Homo sapiens: one gene and its partners. The protein of the gene in region 1 interacts with the protein of each later gene in a pairwise test. Each region holds a gene or a part of one and is shown on either strand. Other genes may lie near its edges.

Region 1 (7,791 bases):
CTCCTTACCATGTTCTTATCCAAACTAAATTCTTACTGTTTCATAATAAAATAAGAGTTTTTCCAGGCCAGGCGTGGTGGTTCACACCTGTAATCCCAGCACTTTGGGAGGCTGAGGCATGCAGATCGCTTGAGGTCAGGAGTTTGAGACCAGCCTGGCCAACATGGTGAAACACCATCTATAACAAAATATAAAAATTAGCCAGGCGTTGTGGCAAGCACCTGTAATCCCAGCTATTTGGGATGCTGAGGCAGGAGAATTGCTTGAACCCGAGAGGCAGAGGTTGCAGTGAGCCGAGATTGCACCACTGCACTACAGCCTGGGCGACAAGAGACTGTCTCAAAAACAAAATCAAAAAAAAAAAAGAAAGAAAAACAAAAAGTAAATAAAAAAATGAGTTTTTCCAAGCAGTGATTTGGTGCAATCCAAGAAAAAAAATTTATTGTGCATGTTTCAGCCCAACCACTAGGTGATCTCCTACAGGTTTTTTAACTCTAGGGAAACATTCCTTCTATTTCAGGAAGAAAATGACAGATGTTAAATTTTGGCATTTTTCAAAGAGAATATGAGAATAACTCAAGGCGTTTATTATTATTTGCCCCATAGAGAAGCAACAAAATCAGCATTTCCTACACCAAAGCAACAAGAATGGAGGCACAGACCTTCCATGCCAGGATGCCACCGAGCTAATGCCTTCAAACATCATCACACACACAGATACACACACACCCAGGATGCCCGTGCTAATGCCTAAATCTCACACAAACACACACACACACACACACACACACACACACACACACACACAGGTTCTGGCCAGATGCTGCCTGCACTGGCCCTTGGGCCTTCTGCAGTAAGTCAGCATTAAAAAAATAAAGCTGACGCTGGGCACGGTGGGTCACACCTGTAATCTCAGCACTTTGGGAGCCCGAGGCAGGAGGATGGCTTGAGCCCAGAAGACCAGCCTGGGTAACACAGTAAGACATCATCTCTACAAAAAATAAAAAATTAGCCAGGTGTGGTGGTGTGCACCTATAGTCCTAGCTACTCAGGAGACAGGTGGGAGGATCTCTTGTGCTCAGGTTCAAGGCTGTGGTAAGCCATGACTGCATCACAGCACGCCAAGCCTGGGTGACAAAGGACCCTGTTTCTAAAAAAAAGACTGAGAAAATTTTATCAAATGTAAACATTTAAATGGGATCTTTATGATATGATGCTGAGCACCTTTTAAGTGTATTTTGTTAGGGGTGAGCAAGACGGGCTTGTGAGAATGGCACATCCAGGAAGGATAAAGAAGACAACAGCTGTGAAGTCTGGAATGGCTACATGGAGTAGCAGGCTAATTACCAAGTATTAAAAGGTCCTATAACACCAGAGATTGTAAACAGGCAGCCTGTCTGAGTATTGCTGGCCACACAGGTTTCAAAAACCACAGATAGGCCAACACTGTAGTAGATTTTCCTTTCTTCAGGGCAATTAATGGTTACTGCAGAGCTGCGATGACCTCTTCGGTCTTTGGGAAGAGTCTGTACTCTCTGGCCCTGTAGTAGGCTGAATAATGGCCCCCAAAGATAACCACATCCTAATCCCTGGAACCTGTGACTATTACTTTATTTGGCAAAAGGGACTTTGCAGATGTAATTAAGGATTTTGAAATGGGAGATTTTCTGGGTTATCTGGTGGGCCCTGAATGTATGACAAGTGTCTTTATAAAAGCGAAGCAGAGGGAACTCTGACTACAGAAAGGGAGGCAATGTGATGACCCGAAGCAGAGATTGAAGTGACGTGAACACAAGCCAAGGAACATTGGCAGCCACCAGAAAATGGAAGAGGCAAGAACCAGATTCTCCCCTGGAGCCCTCAGAAGGAGTGAGCCCTGCCTTGATTTGAGCACTGTAAGATTTCATTGTGAACTTCTGGCCTCCAGAACTGTAAACAAATAAATCTGTTAAATCACTACATTTGTGGTAACTACAACAGCAATATGAAAACTAACCCACCCTGTATATGTTTGAGCTTATAATTTAACTCAACTCTCTCAACAGTTGAGGAGGATATAGAGCCCTGACCTGCCCAAGTCACCTCCAGTTCTTGGAAGAACCAAGTCCCCAGACTGCAACTTGCTACACGCTACCTACGCTTTTCCCATGCAAAAGGAGGTCAGAGGTCTTCCAGTTGTGTTTGGTTCTAGAAGCAAACAAAAAAGAGTGACTTATGGGAGTGGTAGAACATTCTTGAGCCGTGGCCTTTTTGGGAGAGTTAGGCCCCTTGAAAAGTCGATGGAAGCTATATTCTCCTTGCAGGAAACAAAAGGCACACACACTTGCACCCATTTTTGGGAGTTCATGACCCTCAGGTAAAGAACCCCTCCTCGGCAGATAAAAAGCATTTAAGGAAAAACAGACGCAAAATAAAATCTTCGGGTAGACAAGTCAGTCCTGCCTACAGTTATAGATAAGATGGAGAAACAAAACTGAGGACAGGAATTCCATGGAAGAAGGTCACAGGGTCCAGATACGAGAAAAAAACCTCAACGAACCGGGAAACTAAAACTATAGCTTTGAAGAAAAAAACAAAGCATTAAAGCAGAGTTTGGGGTTGAAAGAATGCTCTCCAACAACCAGGAAATCGGGATTTTCACCTTTATTTTTACTCAGGAGATCATTGTTACTCGAACCCAATATTGAAGAGCCAATCTGAAAAGATGGCAATTTACTCCTGAGCTCTGGAAGTTGCTGGAACCTGATCTCGAAGCAGTGACGATCTGTGAACGCCCCAGCTGCACCAACCAAGGTGCTAAACCTTCAGACAGGTCTATTTCTACTCGGATTTTTTCTTTGGGATCAGACTGGTATTTTAAAGCCCTTCCAAACAAACAAACAAAAAACCAGAAGCTTAAAGCAAACCTAACATGTGACTTTGGACACCACTTCATCCAGACTACTTCCCTCAGACACTGACAACCGGCCAGAGGTGGAATCGCGGGAAACCTTAAACCCAGGGAAGAAGTGACTTTAAAGGAAACAAAGCGTTCGCCCCCGCCGCTTGGGAGAAGGGGCTGGGATAGAGACAAAGCCCGAGGAAAACACCGAACTAAAGTTGGGTTAGGAGCGGGGGAGGCATGGGCAGGACCCGAGAGAGGCAACTGGAACCCAGAGTGCGCGAGCGCGGAGGAGGTGAAGGCCCTGTGGACGCAGCGCCGGGAGAGCCTCAGCGGGCCGGGATAAGAGGGGCGCCCCTCACCTCGACTGGGTAGAGCTCGCGCGGCAGCACCGCCTGCAGGTCCATGAACAGGGTGATGGGGATGTGGCTGAGGAAGTAGAGGCCCAGCAGCCACTCCACGCAGCGCCTGGTTGCCGGAGCCCCCATAGTCTGTCGGTTGGGCCTGGACCCGCTGATGTGAGAAGAGGGGCCAAATCCGCGCGCCTTCCCAGACCCACGCGCCTCGGTCGCCGCCTTGCCCCCGCGAGGGCTAGGCAGACCGCTTCCATTGGCTGGCGAGAAGAGGAGGCTCGTGGACAGGGGGCGGCACTCCCCACAGGGCGCACCCATTGGTCCGTATAAGTATAGCGCGTGGAGAAGGCGTCTCGTAAGCCATTTCCATTGGCCGCCAGGAGCGCCGTGTGGGCGGGGCTTAGTCACGCCGTTCGGCGCGCGGCTACTCAGTGTAGATTGCGGTTGTGAGCGCGAGCCTAGCGTTTCGGTGCTGGCCGCGTGGTATCCTGGTGTCCCGGCAGCTGCCGGCGGCGCTCCCTTCCCTCGTGGCTCCGTTCGCCACTACAACAGCAGTATGAAAACTGCACTGGCCCTTGGGCCTTCTGCAGTAAGTCAGCATTAAAAAAATAAAGCTGACGCTGTGCACGGTGGGTCATGCCTGTAATGTCTGCACTTTGGGAGCCCGAGGCAGGAGGATGGCTTGAGCCCAGAAGACCAGCCTGGGTAACTTAGTAAGACATTATCTCTACAAAAAATAAAAAATTAGCCAGGTGTGGTGGTGTGCACCTGTAGTCCTAGCTAGTTCGTGTACTAGTGACCAGCGCCTGTGCTGGGCCGCGGTACCCCGGTGCAGTGCGGCCGTCACGGAGCAGGGGTCGCAGAGCGGGGCACGAGCGCCGCGGTGCAGGTTCCCGGCCCAGCCGGGGTTGCGGGTCTGGGGAGGCAGCTGGCCGCGGTGAACAAAGAAGCAGAGGGGAGGACTCGAGGGACGTAGGAGGCAGTAAAATGGACAGGAATCCTCACCGGCTGTGGAGCATGAGGGAAGGTCAAGGATTCGTTTACACGTTCAGCAAATACTGATGTTCATCTCCACGCTGGGCGCAGGCCTGTCTCGGGGCAGGATCGCCGAGGCTGCCATTTGCTAAGAGGGGACACAGGGCAAGGGAGTGCGAGGAAGGAATGCAGCTTGGACTACGTGGACCTTGAGTGGGCTGCAGCGTTGGGTGGAGGAGGCAGTTGGGTGAGCCTGTCTGGAGTCGTAAGCTTGTGAGGCATCCGCCTTTGATGGCGAGCAGAGGGCCTGGGAGAGATCCTGGGGGAGCTCCAGCCTCAGGTCATGGGAGGAGGGGACTGAGATAGGAGCGTACTAGCAGGGGGCTATGTCACAGGGAGGGGCAGCCTGTCAACACTGAGTGATGCCCGCCTGTGGCCCTGTGGGGAACAGTTGTGTCGTGGGGGCAGGAGCCAGGGAGTAAGAAAGTGGGGAAATGGAGGCAGGAAGTGTAGACAGCTGGTCACGAAGGGGAGAAGACATGGGGCAGTAGCTGGAGAGAGATGCACTCGAGAGTTTATTTTGCAGGTGAGAAAGACTTGAGCTAGTTTAGTTTTGACAGTGGGAGAGGTTACCCCTACTCGAGAAGAGCAGGAAATGCGGCTCAAAGCCCTGGAGGAGGCGGAGGGAATGGAAGGATTGGGGTGGGTTAGGTGGGTGCACTGCGCTCCGCCCAGCTTCCCCTTCCCTTGGGGCGCTGTGGGCTAGGACAGAGGGATTATGGCAGTGTTGAAGGCCCAGCTGAGGTGGGGGGCCGCTGACCCGGAGGCCCCAATCTCTTAGGCTGTGTGCTTTGCATTTCTCTAGTGCGGGGTCTACCCAGAAGAAGGCTGTTGGACCCCTACAGAGTTTGGGTTCAGAAAAGCGAAAGGTGGCTTTGAAGAGCTGAAGAAGAGTGATTGAGGTGCAGAAGGTTGCAGTTCAAGCTAGGTAGGGGGAGAGGGAGAGGTGAGGCCAAAGGGGGCTGTAAGACAGGGAGACAGTGGAGGCCTGCTGAGGAACACGTGCCAGCGTGATGGGAGTCACTGGGCCGGAAGGGTGGGAGCTTATGAGGAGGGCGTGCAATACCTGAATTCCTGGGGTCAGGAAGAGGTTCTGCCCGTGGGAGTGTGCGGCTGAAATGGAGTGGAGGGGAAGGTCTTTGGAGATGAGGTCAAGGGAAGGCCACCCAGGGTGGTGGTGGCGAAAATGCCACTGCACACGGGGGAGTAACCAGAAGGAAGGTGAGCATGGGATGAGAGTGGAGGGGAAACTGTGTGGACATGGCCTTGCGGAGGGAGGAGGCCGCTTATCCTGACCTTGAAGGGTGCGAGAAGGTGAATAGCCTGCGCTGGAGAGGGCTGTGGGGAAGCTGAGTCCTCAGCCAAGTGCCAGTTACTGGGGGAGGTAACAGTGGAGGGGTTTGGCTGGAGAGGAGGAGGAGCAGGTTGGAAGGAGACAGTAGGAGAAATGTGGAGGTCTTTGGGTGGGGAGCAGGGGATGAACAGCATGGGTGGCTGAGCATCGTGAGGGCACACAGTTCTGGCGTCCCCCAAGTCTCAGGTCAGCCTTGCCCAGGACCACAGAGCCGGCAGCCACAGGGAGGCAGGGGTGTTCAGGGCTGTTTGTCCTGCTCCGAGGGGGGAGCCGGGCTCCATGGAGAGAACACTCTACCAGGGGCTCAGGAGGGAGGACTCAGAATTAGCTGCTGCTTTTTTTCCAGGAAAAAAAAAAAAAGTCAATGCCTGGGAAACCTTAGGTCACCTGAGGAGAGAGCCCATTTTGTTCACACCATAAATCTTTAAAGGCAGTTTGCTCTTTCTCAGACTCCACTCTGTTCCCAGACTAACTACTCCTGTTAGTCACTTAGTAGCCATCTTGGTTATCAAATTGACCATTGAGTTATCACGGTGCTTGTGTTCAAGTAAGCCTTATGTTATTTAATAGTGGGCCAGGTGTGGTGGCTCATACCTGTAATCACTTTGGGAGGCCGAGGCAGGAGGACCCCTTGAGGCCAGGAGTTTAAGACCAGCCTGGGCAACATAGCAAGACCCCATCTCTTAAAAAAAAATTAGCTGGGCATGGTGGCTTGCCTGTAGTCCCAGCTACTTAGGAGGCTGAGGTGGGAGGATCTCTTGAGCCCAGGAGTTTGAGGCAGCAGTGAGCTGTGATCACCTCACTGCACTCCAGCCTCCACAACAGTGAGACCCCTCTCAAAGGCCCTAAAGTGCAATGGTAGCGATGTGACAATTCGGATATGCCAATGAGAAACCATAAAGTTCCTTTATGTGAAAAGGTGAAGATTTTTGATTTAGGAAATAATGCTGAGGTTGCTAAGATCTAGAGAACAGTAAGATATTTTGAGAGAGAGCACATTCACATACTATTTATTACAGTATATTGTTATACTTGTTCTATTTTATTGTTAATGTCTTACTGTGCTTGATTTATAAATTAAACTTTATCATAGGTTTGTATGTATAGGAAAAAACAATATGGTTCAGTACTACCTATGGTTTCAGGCCTCCACTGGGGGTCTTGGAACATGTTCCCCCACGGATAAGGGGGACTTTTGTATACAGCTCCTCTCTCACTTCTCCAAACCATTCACTTGAATGAGAACATGAAGGCTGGGCGCAATGGTTCACACGTGTAATCCCAGCAGAGGCCAAGGCAGGTGGATTACCTGAGGTCAGGAGTTCCAGACCAGCCTCACCAACATGGTGAAACCCAAACTCTACTAAAAGTACAAAAGTTAGCCAGGCATGGTGGTGCACACCTACAGTCCCCGCTACTCAGGAGACTGAGGCAGGAGAATCACTTGAACCTAGGAGGCAGAGGTTGCAGAGTCATGATAGCACCATTGCACTCCAGCCTGGGCGACAGAACAAAACTCTGTCTCAGAAAAAAAAAAAAGGCTGGGCATGGTGACTCAGGACTGTAATCCCAGCACTTTAGGAGGCTGAGGTGGGTGGATCACCTGAGGTCAGGAGTTCAAGACTGGCCTGGCCAACATGGTGAAAATCCATCTCTACTAAAAATACAAAAATTAGCCAGGCATAGTGGCGTGCACCTGTAGTCCTAGCTACATGGGAAGCTGAGGCAGGAGAATCACTTGAACCTGGGAGGTGGAGGTTGCAATGAGCCAGGATCGCACCACTGCACTCTAGCCTGAGTGACAGAGTGAGACTCCGTCTCAAAAAAAAAAAAAAAAAAATGGAACATGAAGAGCTGGGAGGGCCTTTGTAGATATCTAGGGCCTAACACCTCATGAGGAAACTGAGACTCAGAGAGGTGTTTGTCCGAGGTCACAAAGTGAGTGACAAGGCAGGGACTGGAACCCTGGTATCCTAACGCCCAGCCCCAGGCCAAGTCTTCTATCCCTAGGGCAGAGCAGTGCCTTCCCGCACAGGGTCTTCAGACCAAACCCAGGGCCCAGGAGAGGTCTGGCTAGGTTGGCACACTACACAGCTGGAGAGGCCTGGCAGCACTGCTCCCACCCTCCATCCATTATGGCTTTAAGGATATGGTGGTACCATATCCTT
Region 2 (7,676 bases), on another chromosome or scaffold:
GGAAGCCACAGTGCTGATCCCTGGCCCACCCTCCCCTGGGAGACCAGACTGACCCTGGGTCATTGGTTGGCTAAAGCCTGGGGCCTCAAGTTTGGTATGTGGGGCTCGCTCACTGCCAACGGGTTCTCCTTGAGGATCCCTTTCTTCCTTTCATCTGCTCAGGCCTAACACCCCATACACTGTGTGCGGATAGGGAGGTGACCCCTTTAGCGTCTCAGCAGCACACTCCTGCCTGGACCACCCTCTCCCAGGAAGGTCAGACCCCAGCGGAACCTTTGCCCTGCTTGGGTGGAAGCATGAACAACTAGTACAGCTCAGCAAGGGACTCCCAGTATTGCTGGCCCTTGGGTGTCCCTGGCATTGGGTAGATGACCCCTCATGCCAGGGACTGGCCTCAAGGCTGTTCCTCTCTACTCCAGAGCCTCTGGGCAGTGGGTTGTGGATTTCCTAAGAGCTGACCATTGCTGCGTCAGAGGCTTGCAGCACTGGGTTACTCAACAAGGCCCTGCAGCCTGGTTTGCTATGAAGGAGAAGATGGGGTCTCTCGTCCCTAGCCCCAGTGCACTTAAATGTGCTAGTCCCAGAGGTTGGGAGTCCTGAGTCAGCCTGTGAGGACAGGGCAAGGACAGTAACTGCCTCGGGTCCTGGGAATGTCTGTGGGGAAGAAGAGGCTCTGCTACCCTTGAGATCTGCTGGGTCCTGGTCCCTAAGTGTACCTCTCCACCCATCTCACCCTGAGTCAGGCCCAGGAAAGGGGTATCTTTGGTGTTTCCTGGGCTTCTGAACACCACATTCATCACTACCATTCTCCTCAGTGCTGGCCCAACCCCAAGAGCTGGAGAACAGGCTGGCCCCGGCCACTCTATCTCACTTTCCCTGGCATAAAGGCTTTGACCTTGGGCAACATACCCAGGGCAACCCAGCACCTCGGCAGGCTGGTGATCAATCTTCTCAACTTACAGATCCTGCTGACCATGCCTGCAACCAGGCCTCCCATCTGCTATCTCCCTCAGTGCACACTGTCCTAGGGAGTTGGGTGAATATCTATTATAGTGTGTCCATGTCACAGTTCAGAATCCTGAGGTCCCAGAGCAATTCAAATGCTTCTGGCTCCTTTCAGTGGAAAGCTGCAGCCAGCCTAAATCATCTCCCTGTGCTGGGCCCAGGAAGAGATGACCCTTTAGTATACCATGTTGTTTGAGTAGCCAAGACCTCTGGGAGTAAAGGCCCCTGGCCATATAAGCAATATAGGGGAAGGCGTCCTGAGCTCCTCTTGGGGCCTCTCTGCTACTGGGTGCTCTGCAAGCTGGGTCCCTGTGCCCTGGATCTCTAGAAATGTTTCTCAAATTGGGGCTGCTGAACAGAGGGCAGCCCAGCCAAGTGAGGGCAGGAAGTGGGCAAGAAAGCAGGAAGGGTCTCACAGGGCCACCAGGGAGGGCAGTGCAGGGCAGGTGGCCCATGACAGGTGGGATGCTGGCTTGCCTGCCTGCCACCATCCTCTGTTCCTTCTGGAAGCCATGCCCTGCCATGAGCCATGGCCTTGGTGCTGAGACTGTCCATTCCACCTCCCATTCTCCTCCTCCCTCTGACTGTCACCTTGAGAAGCATCCACCCTGGGGCTTAGGGCAGCTGTGTCTGTGACATGTGGAGCCCTCCTCCTCCTCAGAGGCCCAGGCCAGCCTCCAAGTGCTGAGATAGCCAGCTGCCTGTGGGCACCCAGGTTGCTAAGGTATCTTCCAGGTTCAGCCTCCTCCTCTCCCTCTTATCCTATCACCCTCTCCTTCTATTCCATCCTGCCCACTGGGTCCCTGTGCCAAGCCCTCCACCTCCCTCCTGCCTCCCTCCGAGTCCCTGCATGACTCATACTTTCCCTGGGCCCTCCCTATAAAGTTTGGTTCCACAGGCTCTTTGAAGAGATCCAGCCTCTTCAGCTCTGGGCAGGCAAGAACTAGGCAACCAGGCCATGGGTACCAGGGCCTCTGCCCCCAGCCCGGGAGCCCCTGTGTTGGGGCCAGGATACTATCTGAACATGCTGACAGTCTGGACTTTGGAAGGGGAAAATGGTGCTTCCCTGTGTGGGCTTCTGTGTTTGAGCTGAGGAAACTGAGGCCAGAGAGATGCCGTAATTTATCCAGGGACCCAGAAGGGGCTCATAGCTGAGCTGAAGAGTGTCCCACATCCTCCCCAGTACTCCACACTGGTCCCTGAGTGGCAGCCTTGCTAGGATGGCAGGAATCAGCTGACCACTTATTCCTGGGCCATCAGACCCTTAGAATAGGGACCAGGTGGGCAGTGCTGCCTCTGTGTCTGAAAGTGGACCCACCGTGACCAGTGCCCAGTGCCCACCAAGGCTCAGCCAGGGGTTTCACCAGGGCATGGGGCACTGGCTGAGCATACCACGCCCTCTGTGTCCTCTGCAACACTAGAGCCCTGAGACTAGAGGGGCAGAAAGATGCCAGCTGTCAAAAGCCAGTGATATCCACCAGAACACACTGACCGCCCCCACCCTGTGCCTCTCCTTCTTTGCAGAAGCTACCTGTGCCCTGGGTTCTCTGGGCAGGGAAGGGCTGGACAGGCAGCCCTCAGGGGACAGCCCTGCCTGCCACTTGGGCAGCTGTCAGAGCATGCAGATGTGCCCGATGCCTAGCTGGGGCACTTGGCACAGTTGCCACTGCACCCTGCCTAGGGGTCCCAGCAGCCTCTGGGCGGTGGGTGGAGTGGGGTGCACGGTCACACAGGCTGAGAGGGCCCCCAGGACGCCCCCATCCCACAGTTCCCACTCCAGTCTGCTGTCTTCTCCCAGCTTTTTCCCAGCGCCCCGCCTCCCCCGACCTTACCTAGGGACGCAGCCAGGAAGAGAGCGAAGAGCAGGGATCCCCAGCGCCAGCTGCCGGCCTCCAGGGCCGTGGGGACGCCCATGTCGCCGTCGGACGCGCAGAGGAACTTCTGGTGCCGGGGAGCGGGCGGGACGCGGCCGGCGCGGGGAAGCCTCCCGCGACTGAGTGCGAGCGAGTGAGCGCTGCGGGCGGCCCCAGCGCCGTGCTCCAGGCACCCGCCCCCTTCGCGCAGCGCCCCCGGGGGGCCGTGTGGGGGAACTGCCTCTCCGAGGGCCGCGTGGGAGGGGCTTCCCGGAGGCCGGCCCCGTGGGTGGGGAGCCAGCGTGCGTCCCAGCGAGTCAGCTCCACTTGATCGGCAGTTTAAAGCCCGTTCTACCGTCCCCCAGTCCTTTTGGAGAGAAATTATTATTGCTGCGCAGCCTAAGAAGTAGATCTACCTCTAACAGCGTGATAGACGTTACCATGGCTTGCATCTGCCCTCAGCCACCAGCCTTTGAGTGATCTGGGGACAGAGACTTGTACCCTACATCCTCCAGCCAGACCAGGGCTTGGTATGTGGTAGGCACTCCCAGCTGTGGAATGAGTGAGTAAATGAGTGAATGAATGAAATCTGACATTGTGAAGAGCTAGGCAAGCTGGAGCCAGTTTAACTGTAGATTCAGAGCCTGAGGCACCCTGAGTGCATGCGCGCGCGCACACACACACACACACACACACACACACACACACACAGAACAGGTGCAGGACTACACGCCAAGATCAGCACATCCCTACCCCGGGACACACACAGATATGCAGGCAACACCTGTTGGCGTGCCCCACAGCACATCCTGCAAGCTCCCCTCCGGCAGAGGCCTCAGCTGTCCGCCTGGCTGTGCACCCGCCCTCCCTCCCTGGTGCCTGGATATCTGCAGGACACTCTGATGCACCCTAACTTCTAGTGCCTCTGCTCTTGCACCCACACCCAGCACTGCTGGCACCACTGGAATGTCTCTCCCCTCCTAATTCTTCTCATCCCTCAGGGCTCAGCTCAAGTCCTCCCACTTCACGAAATGTCCTGACCCTTCCTTTTTCCCGGCAAATCCTTACTGTCCACACCCCCTTCAGCTACCACCTCCAGCCTGAGATAACCAGCAGTTGGTTCTTCTTCCGGCTGTTCTGCCCTCCAGAGCGAAACTACAAACCTCTCTCTGATGTTTCTGAGACCCTAGCACAAAGCTGGGCGTGGAGAAGGTTTTACTGCACTTTTATCTGAATGGACAAACCAATGAGTGAGTGAGTGATTGTGTGATGGAGGAGCAGAGGTGATCGTGGCCAGGACCAGGGATCACAGGAGTGGAAGAGCACAGCCATTTTACTCAGTTTACCCCAGTCTAGCTGAAGCTTCCAGGGGTTTTTCTGGCACTTTAGGGATCTTGGGTTAATAGGTGACTCCTAGGCTGAGAGGCAGAGGACACTCAGAGTCTGACTGGGTCAGGAACCAGGGTATCAGGACTCAATGGGAGCCAGGAGTCCTGGGGGCCTTGTGGGTGGCCTGATCCAAGTCACGGGCTCTCTGGAGGCCCTTAGCCCTTGCTCTAAGGGCAGGGAAGGCTACAACAGAGGAAGGCTGAGGCATCATGTTATTACTAAGTGAACTTGTGCAGGCCCAGTCCCCCTGGAGCCAGTGAACTCCCCAGGATGGGAGCCCCAGAGGCTGGCAGGACATAACCCAGGTCCTTGGGCATGCTCCTGGCCTTGTGACCCCACCTTGGAAGGCAGCCCAGGGCCCTTCCTGCTGGCATAGCATGAGCTCCCTTCCACCAGGGGAGGTACAAAGCCAACTGAGATCAGGTGGACACCGGGCCCTTCTCACCCTGACATCCTCTGGCAAGTGAGGGGGGTCCCTTAAGGGCAAGATCCTAGAGCACCACCCCATCTCAACCCTTCCTGGACTGGCTTTGCTCAGGACACCCTTGAAACCAGACTCCCTCTTCCCCAGGGCCTAGCAGCCGGGGAGGGCCTGGAATTAGAGAAAGGGGAGCAATTGCCCTGCCAACCCCTTCCCCAGGGGGATAGAGCCTCTGAGCTGGGCCCAGTTCCCTCCCCCCTTTTCACTTCCTTTCTCCCTACCACACTGCCCACCACTGAGCCTCCTGGGGTTGCATCAGGGTGAGACACAGGCATTGCCCAAGGACCATGGTCCAGAAACCTCAAGCACTGTTTCCTCAACACCAGGGCAGGACAGGAAGGGCTCAGCTGAGAGGGCCTTTGGAGCACTGACTTTCTCCTCCCTCCGAGACCAGAGGAAGTCAAACCCACCTTCCCTCCCCAAGCCCAGACCTGGTCTCAGAGCAGGAGGGGCTCCAAGGCCCAACTCTGTTCAAACTCTCCACTCCCAGCCCCTGCAGCCTGCACACTCCATCATGTGTTTGTGCTTGTTTTCATTAAAAATAGTGGTGAAGGCCCCAAATATTCGAATAAAGATGACTGTCAAGGAAAGCCACCATGTCCATCTTGTGGCTCTGCAGGGCCTGGAGGCAGCTGTGAGTACTCTCTACTGGTGAGGGGCCCAGCCTTGAGCCTTCCTGAGTCCCCTTACTTGCCGGCAAGAATACAAGAGCACCACATTGCAGGAAAGGGGCTGAATTCCAGCCTCCCTGTTGGGGAGGGGATGCTGACATTTCCCACATTCCCAAACTCACCTCCCAAACTCCCTGAGCTAGAAACAACTTTAGAAATCAAGCCAGGTCCTTTATTAAACAGACAGAAAAGGTCCAGAGAGGGGATGTGACCTGCCCAAGGCCACGCAGCTCCTTTTCAAGGCTGCCAACCCTATCTGCTTTGGAAACCGTTTCAGCAAACACCCAATGCCCTCCACCCCCAAGATCCAGAGCTGCATATCAGAGGAATCATTGCCTCCTCAGGGGCAGTGACAGCCTTCTTGGGTCCAGATCCCCTGCCCATCTGTCCATTCTTCCAGTGGTAGCTCCAGAGCCAGCCAGTCCCAAGGAAAAAACCATATGCAAATTGCCTACATTGAGTTGTCTGTACCACCTGCTTTCTGTTCTCTGGCCTGGCAATGGCCTAGTCACGTTCTCTCTACCCAGACACCTTTGCAGTGATTAACACCTTATTATTTTATATTAGTCACTCATTATGATTTGTATTAGTTAGGGTCCTGGCAGGAAACAGATGGCACACTCAGAAAGGGTTCAACTGAAGAGAGTTTAATACAGGGACTGTTTAGGAAGGCTGGTAAAGCACCCAGAGACTAGCACCAACCACAGGAAGCCACTACCACTCACATGTCCAAAGGGAAAGAAGAGGAAGTGATGTTCTGGAGCCCAGTGAAAGCTGGTGCTATGAAAGGGGGACCCCTGTCCCCAAGCAGGAGAAACACAGCCATGGGCAGAACCGCAGTGAGGAATGGAGGGAGTGTGGAAGAAACACCCCCGCCTCTTTCTCCCCACTGCTTTCATCTTCAGCCAGGGCCTCCCATTGGCCACACCCAGCAGGAAGCTGGATAGCAAGGGAGCCAGGGTAAGGCAGTTAGTCCACAGGGGACATCTTCCCAGGTGGAGAAAGGCAGGAAGCAGGAGCAAGAACCATTTCTAGTTGATTCTTGAGTGCTGATTGCCGAGTTCTGATTAGCTGAATATTACTTGTGGTCCAATTGACTCAAGCATTGGCAGAGATGGCCGATCACAGGAGAGTATGTTGTAGAAGCTGTTCTTGGAATGAAGTTATGTTCTGTGAGTCTTATTTTTCACAGGTCAACAAGTTCTGCCCACGAAATTGCCACAAACCCAATGTCCTCCTTCTGGAAATGCTGAAAATATGTATTTCTTTCATTTACATGAACAATAGATGAAGGTTAAATATGGCATTGGGCCGAGTGCCTCACATTCTTGCCTCTTGTAGTCTGGCAGGACATATAGGCTCAATAAGACACAGGCCCTCGTAAAGCTCTGAGCTGGGGTGACTACCAGGGTTCATCCCATATGCCAGTCTTAATCACTAGACCACTGTGCTAACAAGGATCCCAAGTTTGCATCTGGCCTCAGCAGTTCTGTGATTGATTAGTGATGTCTGCTGGGGGTCGCAGACATAGGAGTGGTGGTGCCAGTGCCATCTTGGACAGAGCAGTTACCTTACTTGGCTTTTGGTGGAGTTTTTGAGCTTTCTCTCTCTACCAGCCTGTGACCCACCCCCTGCTTTCTTCTCCTTGCCCTTTCTGTTTGAGTCACATGGAGTGAGTTCAGCCCAGGAGAACAGCCATCTGGATCCACCTTGGTCCCTCTGGCCACCTGACCAAGGACGTGACCCACTCTTTTCCACAGGCCACCACGCACGTGTACGTGACCATTGTGGATGAGAATGATAACGCGCCCATGTTCCAGCAGCCCCACTATGAGGTGCTGCTGGATGAGGGCCCAGACACGCTCAACACCAGCCTCATCACCATCCAGGCACTGGACCTGGATGAGGGTCCCAACGGCACAGTCACCTATGCCATCGTCGCAGGCAACATCGTCAACACCTTCCGCATCGACAGACACATGGTCAGCAGCTGATGGCAGGATCAAGACAAGGGGCGAAACCTATCCAGGGATTGGCAAGGAGTTCAGTGACACTGGAGGGGGATGGAGCAAAGATGCAGTCTAGGGGAAACTGTGGGGGCACTCAGTGTGGGAGGATGAAAAGTTTGGTGGAGTGGAGCCTGGGCTAGGGGGTGGCAGTGGTTCCCCATCACAGCTCCAATGTCAGGGCCTACTTCCCAAATTGGTCAGAGGGTGCTGCAGACCTACCACCCCTAGATCCATCCTTGTCCCTTCCCTGTGTCCCCCAGGGTGTCAT
Region 3 (7,000 bases), on another chromosome or scaffold:
AAAAAAATTATTTTCTGGCTAAAAAGGGCTATTTCAAAAGCAATTTCTCAGAATCAAATTTGAAAGATAATCATAAACTCTTAGAAGAGTAAATCTGCCTTTTCTACCATTTCCTTCTTCCTCAAATACCTGATGAATGAATCCCATTTAAAACGTTAAAAAGAACACACTCCTGCCTCTAGTGAGCTTACAAAATACTCACAGTAAAACTAATCCTAAGCCTGTTTAAGCCTTTAAAAGAAAAGGGTAATCTAGATAGCGAAACATCATGTTTTAAAAACTGTTAATGTCCTTTATATGTAACCCAAATATTTTTCTCTTACCTTTCCTGTGGTCTGTCCATAAAGCCCAAATATCTCACGGAGTTTTTCTTCACTGATTGCATCTGTTCTGTCAATTTTGTTACCCAAGATAAGGATTGGCACATTGGATATTGTTTCATCAGTCATTAAAGCCTAAAGATTGAAAAAAAAGAAAAAAAGAAAAAAAAGAATTAAGTGAGGAATCTACAAAAGCCCACCAGATAATGAAAATTCTGACTTCCACTAATCTTTTAAGGCATTAATGTAAAGTGAAAATCTGATCAACTTTATACCTGAGTGATTAAAGATTCACCTTGACATTACATAACACCCATGACATTAAGTAAAAATCTCCTAAGTGCCTCGAAACAGTTGCAACTTTATTCTATTTATTTACAAGGCAGCAGAACTGCCCCAATATTAACTTTTGAGCTAATCTGCTCAGCCACAAACTATCCTCAGGATGTCCCTCAGCAAAGTCCTATAAGAATGAATGCTCTGGCTACAGAGCCTCAAAGATGACTACAGGAATTCCCCAAGTATTCACCAAGTCCCATTGTGTGCGAAGAACTCTCTCAGGCATTGAGAGGAATAAAGTAGGAAGGGTAACTATCTCAGGCACTGAGGATACAAAAGGAAGCACATTCCTGTCCTCAAAAAAATCCTCACTCTATGTTCACATTATGTTTTTTTTCTTTTTTCTTAATCTCAGCTCACTGCAACCTGTGACTTCCAGGTTCAAGCGATTCTCCCACCTCAGCCTCCTGAGTAGCTGGGACTACAGGCATGTGCTACCACGCCTGGCTAATTTTTGTATTTTTTTAGTAGAGATGGAGTTTTACCATGTTGGCCAGGCTGGTCTCAAACTCCTGCCCCTCAAGTAATCTGCCAACCTCAGCATCCCAAAATGCTGGAATTACAGGCATGAGCCACCACGCCCAGCCACATTTATGTTAACAAAGCCAAGTAAGAACACAATATAGTGGATAAGTGTCACAATGAATGGGAACTGAATATTAACATTAAGACAAGTTCAGGGAAATAAAATGGCAATTTTGGGCTTGAGCAAAGTCTTAGAAAAGATCTGGAACCTAAACAGGGCTCTAAAGGAAGGGCAGGGTTTGGATAGGTGTAAAGGAGAAGTAAGAACATAAACAACGGCTTTGCATTAGGACAATAATTCAGGAAGCCACACAGTACTGCATGGCTGGATTCAAGCATTTAGATAGACATGCAGCGACAAAGTAAATGGATGAGAAGAGATGACTCACATTAGGGGCCAGTGTGAGAAGTGAGCTGCAATATATCCTAAAAGACCACAAATCCAGAAGTTAGTGAATAAAATCTTATTTTTCAGTATAATGAATTCACAAATAGTATCTATCTGTGGTGTTCATGTAAGAGATCATGATCTAGCTTAAGGTAGAGCATTCAATGAATACTGCAGGAGGCATTTTGAAGAAAGAATTGAAGAGACCAATGTCTAAATGATTAAAAAAAAAATTTAAAAAAGACAAATGAGTCAAAACTGCCACTGATTTCAAGCCTGGGAATCTAGTTGTCACCAATAGGAAAGCTAGCGGGGAAAGCAGAGTTAAAGAGATAAAGAGGAATGTACTTTGACCATCTGGAATTCCAGGAAATGTTACACAAAATTAGAATAAGAATGTCCTTCATTCATTAAGCAACAACAAAGTACCTAATGTGTCTAATGCTTTGCTAGGTGCAGGGGTTTTGCAAAGAAATAAGACACAGTCCCTATCATGTTAGTTCATAGTCTGATGAGAGAGAACTATAAAAAAATCAATAAAGACAACAGACATTGGTAAGGTGGGAGTCTAACACAGTCTCAGAGGTCAAGGGAGGCTTACCAGAAGCAGTCATATCTGAACTCTGAGGTCTCTTATAGAACATTTTAAAATTTGCCGACAAAGCGAGGGGTTGAGGAGAGGTACAGGTGAAAAAGCCAGGCAGTAGCTACTTGTGCATATTCAAGGATGGCTAAGTTGTTTGTTTGGAATATAGTTCAAGGTAGGCAGTAAAAAGAAACAGAGGGAGGATCATGAATGATCCTATGTGCTATGCAAAAGATTTATAGATTTTATCCTGAAAATGATAGAGAACTATCAAAGGATATTAAGTAGGGCAATTAAGTCTGAGAAAGTTCCTTCTAGCATTATGGTGCATATCAGGGTCATGGTAGGATTTATATTAATTCACAGATTTGTGGACTGCATGTCCAGGTAGGTGGTGGGTGGGAAAGACAAATAGTTCCATTCTAGGAAAACAGAATCAGTAGTAGGAGTTGTCGAGAGTAGGCAGGATTAGGTATGAGATTAGAGCTCAGGAGAGGTCTAGAGGAGAGAAATGCATTTGAGAGTCACTGACATGTAGGTGCCAAATGAAGGGAGTAGATGGGACCAGCCTAGGAGAAAGTACTCTGGAGAACACCAACATTTAAGGACTAACCAGAAGAACTAGTGCTTCTCAAAGAGACAGAAGTATCAGCCAGAGAGGTAGCTCCAAAATCAAGAGTGAAAAGAGGAGTTTAAACAAAGAGAATGGAGACCATGCATGGTGGCTCATGCCTGTAATCCCAGCACCTCATGAGGCCGAGGCAGAGGATCACCTGAAGCCAGGAGACTGAGACAAGCCTGGGCAACATAATGAGACCCTGTCTCTACAAAAACACTTTTTTAAAAAAAATTAGCTGGGTGTGGTGGTGTATGCCTGTAGTCCTAGCTACTTGGGAGGCTGAGGCAGGAATATCGCTTGAGCCCAGAAGTCTGGAGGTTACAGTGAGCCGTGATTGCACCATTGGACTCCAGCCTGGGCCACAGAGGAAGATTCTGTTTAAAAAAAAAAAAAAAAAGCAAGGTAAAGACTGCGTGGCAGGCAATTCTACATGAGGCTGGAGCTATAGATGTGAGAAACATACTTAGAAATAAATTCAAGACAGGTTCAAGTTGCCAGAAACAAGAATGCAAGGAGTTATAAATCAAAGAGAAAGAAGAGATATAGGGTAAAGGAGTAGGGATAACAAAGCCAATAGTATAGAAACCATCAAGCCATGAGAAAATGCAATGTTGACAAAGGAGAAAACTTGAAGTGAGTCCTTAATAGTATCAAAGGATGTATGCAACCAAAACTGAAGACTGAGAACAGACCATGAAGGTCTGGCAAGTCATTCAGTGGGAGGGTGGGTAGGCACAAGCTGAGAATGCAGATTCAAAAATGTAAAGAACTCTAATATCGCTTTTAGGCTTTCACTATGCCAACACTACTTATAAAGAATTACTGTTCATGGGCCAGGCGCGGTGGCTCATGCCTGTAATCCCAGCACTTTGGGAGGCCAAGGCGGGTGGATCATGAGGTCAGGAGATCAAGACCAACCTGACTAACATGGTGAAACTCCGTCGCTACTAAAAATACAAAAAACTAGCCGGGCGTGGTGGCACGTGCCTGTAGTCCCAGCTACTCGGGAGGCTGAAGCAGAAGAATCCCTCGAACCCAGGAGGTGGAGGTTGCAGTAAGCCAAGATTGCGCCACTGCACTCCAACCTGGGCAACAGAGCAAGACTCCGTCAAAAAAAAAAAAAAAAAAAAAAAAAAAACAGAATTACTGTTCATGACACGTGAAACAGAATACTATTAATTATGCTGGGACAACAGGCATAAATGAGGAGTATCCTGAGCAAACTTGGCCATATAATCACTGTATGATAGAAACAACAGTTAATTTATTTAAGTTTGAGCTGAGTTTCCTCAGGACATTGAAAAGCAATGTCTTAGATTTAAAACATTTTCCTCCTGCAACTAGGTCTTTTTGCCAAATGTTAACTGGAATGACTAATTATTGGCACTACTGAGCTATATTCCTTAAAAAAAAATAGAGGCCAAAAAAGAACAAAATATACATTAAAATACACATTAAAGGACAAAACATACATTAAGCTCAACTTTGGATTCCACGAGGCGAGAATGATCTGCACAGTCCACCAGAAAGACAATCCCATTAATTGCTGGGAGATAATTTTTCCAAACGCGACGTGCTAAAAAACAAAGTTTGTAGTTGCATGAGTAAAAAATATACATTGTGAAAATGAATAACCTAATGGTCTATAAAATGGACAAATCTTGGTCGGGTTTCAGTAAGATTAGACTCTATGGATTTCTCCAAGTTCTGGCCAGTATTAATTCAGAACAGAGGATGCAAACTGATGGTCCATGAGCTGAACCTGATTTTTGTAAATTTGAAAATCAGAGTTTCCGCTTTTTTTGAAAAACTGCAACATCTGGCAATCCCATGCCTACTTATCCACGTGACAATTATCAGCAGGAACTAAGCAGTGGCTGCCCCTTCAGATGATGTCTGAACACTTTTGCTTGACAAAATTTCCCTGCTGTCTTACAGTCAGCCAATTTTACTCACTTAAATGACTTGCCTTGCCCCTGGGGCCAAGTCTAGTTTGCAACCTCTGAGTTAAAACATCAGGATACAAATTACTTGTCCATGTAACTTTAGTCCCAGTTAGTTTCTAGCCAACTTGTGTGTAGGCGTCTTGACACATTCCTCTGCTCAGCCCTTAGGGAGACTAGGCCTGACAAGTGGTTCAAGGCCCCAGGCCAGTTATCTCAACCTACCATATTTAACCCAGCATGCCTTATAAATATTACTTGGTTTTTTGCTTGTGACATGAAACGATAAAGGCTGGGAAGCAGTGATTTAATTGTACTATCATTTCTAAGCCATTAATTTCTAGCCCTTGCAATAGAATGAATAACGAACCATCTCTACATCAGTTAATAATGGTTACCTTTAAAGAGTGGAGCTAGGAAAAAGAGGTTGAAGGAACTTTCCATTTTACTTTCCGTAGTTCTATACTGATTTTGTTACATCGAACTTGCTCTCCTTTTATAAGTTAAAATTTTTAAGTTATACAAAAAAAAAAAAAGGAAACCTCCAGATGTACAGTACTTTAGTAACTTTTATAAAATGGTGGCTAGGTTATTATGTAAAAGTGTTTTTGTTAAGTAGATTTTCCTCAGTCAAATAAACAAAACTAATTACATCAATACATTTCCCTTCTTACTTTTAACAAAACCTGAAACCTAAATTTATCACACCAAACAATCTACAATTCCCAGTTCAGGTATATAAAACCATCTGGCGTCTGGTCCTTCTACATTCTCCAGATGGTCTAGGTTCAGTCTTATCTTGCTCTGAATTTAAATTTGTAAGCAGTTACAAATCCTTTTGTGGAAGCAGCAGAAAGGACACCATATACCCATTCTTACCCAAATGAAAAAAATACAAGCTCCTTACAGAAAAAAAGGAAACAAAATCATTTCTAATCCCTCTATCAAAACACACCCCTTGTCAATATTTTGATATTTTCTTCCAGCCTCTTTTCTTTACTGGTATTTTATGTGATTATGATCATAATATACATGATTTTTCAGGGCATAAATATTAAATAAATTAATTAAAATGTAATTATATGTTAATGAAATCACTGACTATAAAATTATTAGGCTTAACAACTAGAAATGACCAATGTTATATTTTACTATACATTTTTTAAAAACTGTATTAGGCTGGGCACAGTGGCTCACGCCCATAATCCCAGCACTTTGGGAGGCTGAGGCAGGTGGATCACCTGAGCTCAGGAGTTGAAGACCAGCCTGGGCAACATGGCGGAAACCCAGTCTCTACAAAAAACAGGTGGGAGGATTGCTTGAGCCCAGGAAGTAGAGGTTGCAGTATGCCAAAATTGTGCCACTGCACTCCAGCCTGGGCAACAGAGCAAGACCCCATCTCAAAAAAAAGAAAAAAACGGTATTAGCTCAACCTAATGTTTCAAAACAAGACTTCTCCACTCAGTGTAATAACAAGTAAGTAAATCTGACAGAATCTCAATAGTTCCTTTTCCCTACTTTCCCAGAATATTTATTCTCACATCTTAAATGTTTTACTCCTATACCTACGGTCTTGTCAAATGTGAACTGAGTGCCCATCAGACAAAGATGACACTCTGTATGTCTCTAAACACCTGATAGGAATCTGGAAACCAAAGACATAGCCTGAGTAGGCAAAAAGCACTTCTGAGGAAAGCAAAAAGGTAGAAGGAAATGTTCCACCAACTGTCTGAAATGGATAGAATATACAAAATATCAACTTGTATCAGAGTAATCACACATAGTCACTGTATTACTTTTGCAACTTTTGACAAGTCTGAAATTACTTATAAATATTTAATTTCCTACATACTTTCACTCCATTGAATAAAGGATGCAAAAATGACTTCATAACTAGATATATGATACCGTATACCTGGTCAAGATGAAAAAAATGGTATAAAAGAGATTATCAGGACAACTGACCAAAAAAAAAAGGAAATACAGAGTGGATAAAAATAAAACTTCCTGGATTTGATAACTATTATGATTATATACAAGGAAATATCTTTGTTCTTAGAAAATGGCACTAAAGTATTAAAGAGTAAAGGGGCATGATATGCTCACCAACACTTCATTAAAAACAAGCATTAATATGTATTATATAAAGAAGAGGCACTAAAGTATTAAAGAGTAAAGGGGCATGATATGCTCACAAACAGTTCATAAAAAATAAGCATTAATATGTATTATGTAGGGAGGAGGAGACTAACAAATTTGAGCAAAAGGTATAGAAGAAAA

Evidence for each region. Proteins that work in one complex are often made in the same cells at the same time.
Region 2: the proteins of TMEM97 (region 1) and VSIR interact in binary tests that used the Homo sapiens proteins (3 or more experiments, as listed by UniProt).
Region 3: the proteins of TMEM97 (region 1) and SAR1A interact in binary tests that used the Homo sapiens proteins (3 or more experiments, as listed by UniProt).

The regions. Positions count from the first base shown.
Region 1 is NC_000017.11:28,314,818-28,322,608, reverse strand, and holds the start of TMEM97 (sigma intracellular receptor 2), read right to left. Parts: upstream 3,410-7,791; 5' UTR 3,370-3,409; coding exon 3,244-3,369; intron 1-3,243. UniProt on the Homo sapiens protein: Sigma-2 receptor which contributes to ameliorate dysfunctional cellular processes and slow degenerative progression by regulating cell functions including cholesterol biosynthesis/trafficking, membrane trafficking, autophagy, lipid membrane-bound protein trafficking, and receptor stabilization at the cell surface.
Region 2 is NC_000010.11:71,770,521-71,778,196, forward strand, and holds the start of VSIR (V-type immunoglobulin domain-containing suppressor of T-cell activation precursor), read right to left. Parts: upstream 3,001-7,676; 5' UTR 2,920-3,000; coding exon 2,838-2,919; intron 1-2,837. Other genes in the region: CDH23 (cadherin-23 isoform 1 precursor), read left to right, coding at 7,160-7,381, 7,669-7,676.
Region 3 is NC_000010.11:70,153,515-70,160,514, forward strand, and holds part of SAR1A (small COPII coat GTPase SAR1A), read right to left. Parts: intron 4,354-7,000; coding exon 4,250-4,353; intron 456-4,249; coding exon 324-455; intron 1-323. UniProt on the Homo sapiens protein: Small GTPase that cycles between an active GTP-bound and an inactive GDP-bound state and mainly functions in vesicle-mediated endoplasmic reticulum (ER) to Golgi transport.